2 linked regions of the Homo sapiens genome follow. The protein of the gene in region 2 purifies or fractionates together with the protein of the main gene of each other region. This does not show direct contact. Each region holds a gene or a part of one and is shown on either strand. Other genes may lie near its edges.

Evidence for each region. Proteins that work in one complex are often made in the same cells at the same time.
Region 1: the proteins of BCL7A (region 2) and SMARCE1 purify together in Homo sapiens (affinity purification with mass spectrometry; 5 studies listed by BioGRID and IntAct, with this or other methods). This does not show direct contact.

What each region holds. Positions count from the first base shown.
Region 1 is NC_000017.11:40,640,230-40,645,507, reverse strand, and holds part of SMARCE1 (SWI/SNF-related matrix-associated actin-dependent regulator of chromatin subfamily E member 1), read left to right. Parts: intron 1-2,948; coding exon 2,949-3,053; intron 3,054-5,278. UniProt on the Homo sapiens protein: Involved in transcriptional activation and repression of select genes by chromatin remodeling (alteration of DNA-nucleosome topology).
Region 2 is NC_000012.12:122,027,658-122,032,935, reverse strand, and holds part of BCL7A (B-cell CLL/lymphoma 7 protein family member A), read right to left. Parts: intron 2,237-5,278; coding exon 2,155-2,236; intron 1-2,154.

The sequences.
Region 1 (5,278 bases), on a different chromosome or scaffold from region 2:
CAGTGACAGTCACTCAATCATCACAGCAACAGGATGAAATTCAGCTTAAAAGAAAAAAAAAAAAGCACTTCCTACTAAATAAAATAATTATTTGCATCTTTCCTTGAACCAACCCCAACATTTAAAGAAACAGTACTGTAAAACTCCAACCTCCTGTGCTCAGTTTGTTTTGTTTTTTCTTTGTAAATGGGAAATAAGTGAAAGTTTTACCATTTCTTTCTTATTAATCTTCACTATTAAGAGTCTTTAAGTTGTTACTGAGTGAATGCTCATTCTGGCTATTTTGTTAAACCTAACCTTCAACTGGTTATGTTTTTCTCTCCTTTCTTGTCTCTCTCTAAAATTTTCATATTAAACAATAAAGCTTCTGAAACTACTCATTGTAAATATTTTCAAGCTGTTCAAGTAAAGATTTCATTATCTATGGGGCAGATCTTGCTATTGAATCTTATTCCACTCCATAAATTATATTTTATTGGTTTGGAAGTATATATGTTTTAAGTAGTTGTGAACGTGTTTTTTCACCCAGGAAGCTCTGGCCCAGCTTGGTCAGCATGTAAAATAATTTTCCAACCCACAAAACAGATTTAGCAGTAACTGTTCAGGTCTTGCTGAAATGGCTTCCTTGTTGGTTTTTTGGGAGGGGGGGTTTTGTTTGTTTTTAAAAAAACACTGTTAGCATGACCAAATTCTACAAAATTAGTTCTTTAATATTAATCCTTCCTTCCATACCCCCACCACCTAAATTTCAGGCTAGTCTACTTTTCACTACTAATTAGGTCCTTGTGTAACTTAGTTTTCTCCGCTAAAAAACTACTCATATTTACTAACCCTCAGATACATATTTTAGTTACATTTATCAACAATTTGTTTTTCTTTAGTGAGATACTTTAGAAAAGAGATACCGTACCATATGTTCTCATTTCAATTTATGTCATATACAGGCTCTAAAGTTAATTCCAGTAGACTATAAAGTCCTATGCTTGCTTTGTTTTCTTTCTTAAATCGAAGAACATTTGTTATGACCATCTCCATGGCATTCTGCTAGTGGCTATACAGGTGGAGCTGAACAATTGAGATTCTGACCTCAAAGAGCTAACCATGTACTTCAGCTTTGGAAATGGTATAATTATAATGTTTTGCTTTCCATTTTTTTTTTTTTAGTTCCCTTATTTTTATAACATTATTGCCTCATAATGTTGAACAGTGATTCTTATTATTTATGCTACCTTTGAAGGTGTCATTTTGACAAAAATACTGCCTCTGACAATGCATCATCTTGACAAACTTGATTTTTTGAGATTAAAATATTTCAAAAACCAAGTGTCCCCTTATAATTTATTATGCATAAAAAGGAATTTTTTTTGCCTTTCTTTAGTTATATTTTTGTGTCATTATAGTTTCACATTAACACACAAAATATAGAAGACTAGGGATTAAAACATCCAACAGAATGGATACTAAATGAATTATTCTTCTTCCTTTTTTCTTTCCATTACTTCTACCACCACCACCACCATCACCACCACTACCAACACTATCACCACTATCACCTCTGCCACCCAAATGTACCGCTGCAAGTAATATACACTTCTTTCATGCCTTTGATACTTCAACTGTGTTTTGCCTACTTAAATATGCTTTATTTGCGTCTTTTCTAACTGTATAGACTAGAAATTGATCAGCCGTTCTCTTTTCTCCTAAAGAGTATCAAATGTAATATCTGCTTAAATGTCTTTCTTTTGGGTACTAAGGATATGTGCAGCGGCATGTTTTAGGAAATTGTGTTTATTTTGTAACAGCTACAGCTTAGTTGGAATGTGTTAAGTGTATTTTACATTATACAATTAAGGACCGATATTGTTAATTGCATGTAAAAATGAAATTGTCACATATTTTGATTGAATTTTACAAGGTAAAATACCCTAATTTTGGTCTCTCTCTACTATATTCTTTCTATGCATTATGCCTTGGTTCTCATGAACATTGAGTGTCATTGTATTAGCCCCAAGGCTACTGCTATATAAGAGCCCATTTGTGATTACATCAACACATAATTCACAAAAACCAAGGGTTCTGTTGCTGAAATGAGCAGTTGTATTTTGAAAGGGTGAGAGCTATCAGGAAACTAGATGAAAAAAGAAGTCTATAAACTAGAAAAGTAGTTCACATTGAGACAAAATGCAGAAATGTTTTCATGATTGACCAGTGGAAGATGGATCAAAGAAGAAATGGAAGAGAAATCCTATAAAAGAATGACTGGGTTAAAAAGATCAGATAGTACCCCAGAATGAAATCCATGCATTTCTTACAAGTCTTTGTTTTAAATCATGTATGTGACATCCATCAAATCCAACATATGTTCTTTTCAATTGACAAATCCTGGCTTCCCGATTTGAGTCTCTACTCATTTCTCACATTATATAAAATGATTTAAAACTGTCGTTGAAATCAGATCCATTTCTTTTTTTTGTTTTTAGTAGATAAATACATTGGTGGCATCCACATGTCAAATAAATTGTATTTTGTTTTGCATGTAGTGTTTTCAGAGTTCTAGTTGATCACACTTCAAGCCTTCCTATTTCAGTCTTCATATATTGCTAAGTTGTTTTATCCTATTGTTGACCATAAAGTAATCCTGAATGTTTTAAACACTTCAGTGTGTTGCTTACCTCAAAAAACAAAACACACATTCACAGTCACACAAACACCCCCAGCCCCTGCAAAAAAGAAAGAGAAAAACAACCAAAAGACACTGCAGACAGGTTTCTCAATGAAAGAAAAATATTTAATTTCCTCAGTGGAAAAAAAGAACAATTACAACACATCATTGCTTGTTTAAATTCAGGTTGCTTTTGCATGCCATATGCAGATCATTTTTCATTTCTGTGTTTTCCTCGTTTGAGCTCATTTCTCATTCGTGTTTTTGTCTCATTTGTTTCCATCAGCAAATGCCCAGCACACCAGGGTTTGTGGGATACAATCCATACAGTCATCTCGCCTACAACAACTACAGGCTGGGAGGGAACCCGGGCACCAACAGCCGGGTCACGGTAGGAGAATCAACTATTACAGCATCCGGCAAACAACTGGAATTGACCAGAAATGCCTTCAGAATTAGGTCTTTTTGAATCATAAGCACAGCCATTTAAAAAAAATTTTTTAACCTAGCTTTTTGAGTATTTTCAACATTCGTTGTAGCATCTCACACTGAAAAAATAAATAGTGAGATCTGGAATGTATATAGAAGAAAAGAAAAATCCATTCTGTTTGGTGGTTGGTAGGGTTAAAGCCTTGAGCACTTGATGCTTATACTGTATGTAAACAAACAGAATTTCTTAAGGTAAAAATATCCTTTTTGACATAAAGAGTATTTTTCATTTTTATAAGGTGATTGGCATTAGTCTCAAGGATTGAGTTTCTAGTAGAGGCTGGTCTTTCAGACCTGGCTTTTTCAGGGCTGGAAAGCTTTTGGCTGGTACACCAGTTTGAATCGCTACCCATAGTTATTTGTCTTTTGGATTTAGTAGTTGACCTTCTAACTAAGACTCATTTCTCTACAGTGAAAAAGAGAAAAACGTTTTAATGTCACCTCAAAGAAATGCAGAGTGAAGGTTGAATGAAATTAATTTGAAGTATCAGACTAGATATGTACAACGAGAAGTGCATTTCTAATCCTTAGTATAAGAGATAGGATTTCTGAAACTTAGCATGTTTCATTTAAGTGATCAGCCTAAGATATCAAAATTGGATGATACACTTCAAATCTTTTAGTTTAGAATCATCTTAAATTTCATTCAAAAAAGTTTAAGCACCAAAAAATGCCAATAATTATAAAAATGACTTACTAAAGATAAAAAATCCAAAAGTCAAATACTACATTGGAATGTAGTGTTGGTGAGAATTTATACAACCCAGAATGGCTGTAAAGTTTTTAATACCTGGTTTTTGTTTGCTGTATTCATAAATAACAAGTGCCTTCTATTAATGTAACTTCAAAAAAGCCCTCTCACCCTGTAGTCAAGCTGGAACTGAAAGCTTGTAGCTATCAAATGAATGTCTATCTTGATAAGCATATTGCTTAGCTTGATAGGTTTTGTTTGTCTAAATTTTTCATTGTTTCTGCATAATATGTACTTCATAAGCATATCAAGTTTTATGTGCCATGCATATTTCATGGTATCTGAAAAAGAATTCTGACAAAGTGTGTGTATGTATGCATTTCACAATGCATACAATTTTTATGTGCATCAATACATGTTTTTCCCTGGCCTAAACATGTTGTTTCACAAGTGTAATGGATGGCAAGGTTTTCAAATGATAAAGAACATTTCAGTTTAAACAATGAACGGAATCAATCATGGATCTTAATGTTAATGCAGCAATTTTTTCACGGGCAGTAAACAAGAATGATTGCATTTAATAGCTCTATACAGTCACCTCTTGATTATCTATGTTAATGGAATAGAAATGATAACTATAATATTACAGTAATTTGTCTTTTGGTTTTGTGTAAGTATTTTGCTCTTAACTTGGATGTAGCTGTGGGGGATTCTCAGTTAAAAAAGTGAGATTGTTCGATGGAGACTAGGAAGAGAAAGTGTACTCCCTATCTGAAGTCACTCATCTGTTTCTTCCCATTCCTTCTTGGCGAATGTTAAGAACTGAACATTTGGCGTGGACACTAGCTACATAGTAGATTAATTATAGAGAGTTGTTGGACATGGAAAATTTGGTGTTTTGGTCCTTTGTGGACATTTACTTTGTATTATTGTCCTCTTAACACCAAATTGAAGTATAATCAAACTGCTATATGAAGAAGGGCCTAGAAAATGTGGAGGTTTTACACTACTTGCCCTGCTTTCTATATCTAGTTTAAGCTGTTAGGACTCAATGGCTCTGATTTTGACCATAATAAAAGCATTTTGATTTTACTATGACCCTAGTTATGCATTACTTTTGGGGGTGAGGGGAAGCTCCTGTATGGTATTGTTGTGCGCAGATTGCATTAGTGGTTTTCAAGGAACGAATCTGTGAAGCCCTGTCCAGTAGCTTGTGGTAGGCTGTAGAGAACATTGGGTTTCCCTGATGACTCCAGTATACTTGGGTAGTTCTCAGACAGTAAATACTTTGTATAGCATGTCGAGACCTTTTGGAGTGCTTATGATAGCTACAAGATGGAATTCACTCCTAGTCAGTTCTTCATTCAGATGATGATTAACATTCTCTTAAGTACAGGTGTGAAAACACATTGAGACAAAAATGTCTTTAAAAACAG
Region 2 (5,278 bases):
AGCGGCTGGTGATGGGCCCAGGAATCTGCATCTTCTGAAGGTGCTCAGCCAGGCCGAGAACCATCGCCCTAGAGGGAAAGGGGGTGGGGGAGTGGCACATGGCACATCATGGCTCACAGATGAAGAGGGAATTTGCATTTCTCGGCACCGTCTGCACAGCCGGCACAGTGCTAAGTATTCTCCGTGGTGATATATTGCTTTTGCTCTGTTGCAGAAACCGCGATTTGGATGTTACTGCTCCATTACACAAAAGAGGGAACTAAGGCCCAGCAATGTGGGGTCACCTGCCTAACATCACAGGTTAATCGGGGCTGGTCTGTCTGCCTCCAAATCAAACGGTCCCTTGAAGCCTAGAGCTGCCCGGTCCTTCCCGATGGCCCAGGGCTTACGTTTTCCCCTTGATCATATTCCATTTGGCACTTCCCTGATATCTGTTTCATGCTATTCTATAATTATCTTCCCCAAACGAGATTAGAAATTCCTTGAGAGCAGGGACCACATCTTCTCAAATGCAACCAGCATTTCTACACCTAATGGCGGGCAAGGCACAGACATGGGCCGGAGCCAGGAACTGCCTTCGAGGAGCTTGCCCTGCTCTTCCCTGGGAGATGCGGAGAGAGACCAAGGCTCAGTCCCTTTGGGGAAAGCAGCCCTGGTGATTCCGGGAGCCCAGGCTAGAACCAGAAGGGACAACAAAGGCCCAAGTTCAGGGGTGAGCATGTGATCACGGGGTGAAGAATGGAGCCACAGCCCTGCCCAGAGACCCAAGACTTGCCGGGCAGATAACTGAAGATGGGGGCGAGAAACTTAGCCCCTGTCTTTTTGGAGGAAGCTGGACCCCCACATGCTTCCCCCACCCCAAACCTACCAATCATGACTTTACGTCACTCCCAGGAGTGGCCGCAGCCATGTGGGTTAGTCTGCGCCATCTTCCCAGGTAGAAGGACTGAGTTTGAGTAAATACGGAAGGCAGTCCAGGCAGGGGGGAATGGCCCAGGCAAAGGCCTATGGGGCAGACTGTTCTTGATTTGGGATGGAAATGAGAGGGGTCTCTGGAGGTAACTGGCCTGGGAACCACGAAGTTGGGAGAGCACTGTCTGCTCGGGGCAGTTGCCAGCCATCACAGGACAGCGCCTCGCATTCCCTCTAGTGGTGGAAGTCGGGATGGCGCCACCCCTCCTGGAGCCCTCCTGGAGCCCCGCATCCCTACACCAGGCTTTCCTAGCACCGGGGACCCCTGTCACCAGCAGCTCCACTCACCAGAAGCCTCTCCAAGCGCAGAGAGAACCTGCGCTTTGGAGTCAGACAGACCTGAGCTCCATTCACAGCTCTGAGGTGAGCCATGTGAAGTGGCTTCACCTCTCTGAGCCTGTGCCCTCACTTGTACAGAGGAGAGGTTAAAAAGATCAACTCCACAGGCTGAGTAGGAAAAATAACGGAGATGCCACATGTGAGGCATCAGCCCAGGGCCTGGCAGATGGTCAGAGGCTCAGGAACAGAACCACAAAGGTGGGGAGAACGTGCCTAACTGTGGGCACCACCACACCTGCCCCAAAACACAGTGCCAAGCCCTGGGGGGGGCGCTCGGCCCAGAAGACACAACTTGCAGGCCGGGCGCACTGGTTCACGCCTTAACTCCAGCACTTTGGGAGGCCCAGGCAGGTGGATCACCCGAGGTCAGGAGTTCAAGACGAGCCTGGCCAACACGGTGAAACTGCGTCTCTACTAAAAATACGAAAAAATTGGCTGGGTGTGGTGGTGTGCACCTGTAATCCCAGCTACTCGGGAGGCTGAGGCTGGAGAATCGCTTGAACTCACGAGGCAGAGGATGCAGTGAGCCAAGATCACACCACTGCACTCCAGCCTGGGCGGCAGAGTGAGACTCTGTATCAAAAAGAAGAAGAAGAAGAAGAAGAAGACACAGCTTGCGGGATCCCCCCGTCCACCGCTCTGAGGGCCAGACTCTGGGGCTGGAGTGGGAGGGGTGGGGACTGGTACAGCAGCCTCCCCAGGTCTAATCTGGGTCCTTCTACTCCCAGGGGCTCTTGGTCCCAGAGCCCCAGCACGGTGGGTAGCAGTGGACAATCTCCCTCCCCATGGTGGGAGGAGCACGAATGGGTGGCCCACCCCAGGGGACCAGCCCTCCATACTCACGTCATCAACCTTGGGCTCCGTCACAGGGACCCATTTGTAGATTCGTAGGGATGTGTCACCAACGGTCACCCATTTCTTCTCCCTGAGGAGGATGAGGAAGAGCCTGTTACCGGGGACTCTTCATCCCTGGGGGACACAGGCCACACTCCCTTGGGGCTGAGAGCAAGCTCCAGATCACACAGATGAGGGTTGGAATCCCAGCTCCACCCTCACTAGCGGGAGGCCCTGGGCAGGCCACATCACCCATCTAAGCCTGGTTTCTCCACCCGTTACACCACATAGGGTGGTTGCCCTCTCCAGGCTGTCGCCAAAAAGGCTGAGGGTGGGGCTGCCATTACAAGGACTCCTATGGGTGGCACGAGTCGGGCCCAGGTTCCTCCTGTGTCACTGCCAATGCCACGCAGCCAGTGGACTGGGCCACCCGCGCCTGTCTGGGCAGCAGAGAGGGCTTCAGGCCAGCAGGCCGATTCCTCTCATGGGGGGTGGAGTCGTCACCAAGGACACCCCGGGGCTCCTCCTGCCCTCTGGGCGATGCGTCTGAGGTCAGGGGAGGCATGAGCAGGCAAGCCGGGGAGCCGCCCACACTCTGCCGGAAGAATGCCCTTCGTGGCGGCCAAGGAGAGCCAGGGAGTGGTGACCTCGGCCCGAAAGGAGGTTACACAGCCTGAATGTGTGGGTGCAGCCAGGTGGGAGGGGAACTGCACCCCTGATTCAGGGCTCCTAGTGACCCTGTCTGCAAGGTCACCCCAGCTGCATTACAAACGCCTGAAGGACGGAGTCCAGACCCCCCACTGTGAGAGGCAGGTTTATGGATGAGGAGAAACTTACAAGCCACAGAAGCAAACAGGACTGGTTTTCATTCGAGATAACAATGCCCACCCTCTCCTCCACCACCACCACTCTGCTCCGAGCCACTGTCATTTTTCCGATTATTGCTACAGCCAGCCACCTCCTGTCCTTGACCCCCTGCACTCCGACTTGTCCCTTACCGCCACGAAGACCCAGCAGCCACACCCCTGAGGGGACTGAGGCTCAGGAGAGCCTCCCAGAAGCAGGGCTGGGGTTGGAACCGAGGCTCCTAAATCAAGACTCTGCCAGATCAGGAGACCTGCGAGGCCACCAAGGAGCCACTGATGGCTCAGCTAGGAGGCTGGCGGATTTAAGGGGCCCAGCAGGCACTGTTGGGGCAGGCGCACCCCTGGTACAGGCGACGTAGCTGCCCGAGTCCTCAGCAATTTTGGTGACAAAAATTCCCAGAACTGAGAATTCTGTGTGGCACGAGCACCTCTGTCCGTGAGCTGCCTGGCACCTTTTTTTGGCCTCTCTGCCCAAACTCAGCCTTAGATCACCCCCTCGTGGGGCATGTGGCCCTCACATGCTGGTGTGACAGGTTACAGGACTCCCACCCTGTCACCACGGGGGTTGCGGGATGACGGAGCATACTCAAACCCAGCCAGCCGAAACCACAGACACCTCACCCCCAAAAACCCTGCCCGCTCGGGTCCCACGTGTTCCATCAGAGGACGCTACGGCCCGGCTTTTCTTATTATACCAGTGGCCATTCCTAGCGCCTTCTATGTACCAAGGACTGTGCCGGCTCATCCGGCAGGAAATGGCAACTTCCCCATTTGACAGATAAAGAAACCGAGGCACAGGGCGGTGAAGGTGAACTCATTCTCCCAGAGCCAGCACTCGAACCCTTCACCCAGCACAGCTGTTGAGACCAGCCTCTCTGCTCCCTCCTCCTTGCACCTTTTCACCCAGAAACGATGCAGGAAAGACGAGTGTCTAAGTCCACTGGCCCGTCTCCTGCCTCCTGTGGGCAGAGCAGACAAACCACAATGCCCACCTTTCCCCTCCTCAATTCTGAGCAATCAGAAGGTGTCCAGAAGAGACCGAGTGCTCCTGGGAAGAACCTCAGTTGTTAGAGCAACCATCACAATAGCCACTGTGTGCCCAGGCTATTACATGCCAGGCTCCACGCCAAGCACTCTACTTACACACCCTCTCTCCCTGGGATTCCCAACAGGCTACAAGAGGGGGACGATTGTCACCCTTTTTACAGATGCAGAAACAGGATGCCCAGAGAGGTTATACCACTAGCTTGGGGTCTCACAGACAGGAAGTGGCAGAAGAGAATTAGATTTGGGCTCGGACCCCAGACACCACCTCCTGCTATTCTGTTGGCCATGAAAACCAAGAATCATTCTAAAGGAGCGCCAGGGTAACAGAAGCTGGAGGAAGAATGACAAATTGCCAGGACTCCATGCAGATTGGCCAAAGCCATTCATTACTCATGAGCCCTGGACCAGCTTCCCAGTAAATCAACCCATTCAAGGTTTGATTGTGTTTGGGAAAAAAAAAAAAAAGTAATTGACTTGTAACACACAGGACACCTTTCAGGGCAGAAAGTGTGCCAGAGATCTGGGCTTTGCGGCCGCAAATCAGCCAAGATGCAAGTTTGCAGCTGCTTCCCAGCGAGGCTCGAGGCCACCGCAGGCTACAAGCTGAATGCAGCCAGGCTTTCGTGCCTCTCTTTGCCCCAACTGGCAACCTCTTCACCGAGTTCTCAAGTTACCCCAGTGATGAGAAACTGTATTTCTAGGTGTGGACATTGAGGGGACTCTGGGACAGAGGCAAGAACATTAAGAATTCTACCTCTGAGCTGGACCTATGCTCAGCTAAGCAGCCACCCGGAGGGGCCATGGAGCTCAAGTTTAAGGCACCAAGTGAGCACCCAGGAGGACATGGGATTTCACAGCCACAGACACACTGGGTGGGCACACGGGTTCAGCGGAGCAGCTGAGGTTTCCCACAATTGCCCCCCAAAACCATCACCACAGAACACATACCCCTCCCCAAAAAAGGGCGTTGCTCCTCTTCCCCAATGAGGGTATTAAGCTATACTCATCACTTTCTTATTTTTTTATTTTTTTTATTTTTTTGAGACGGACTCCTGCTCTGTGGCCCAGGCTGGAGTGCAGTGGCACAATCTCGGCTCACTGCAACCTCCGCCTCCCGGGTTCAAGCGATTCTCCTGCCTCAGCCTCCTGAGTAGCTGGGACTACAAGCACATGCCACCACGCCCGGCTAATTTTTGTATTTTTAGTAGAGACGGGTTTCA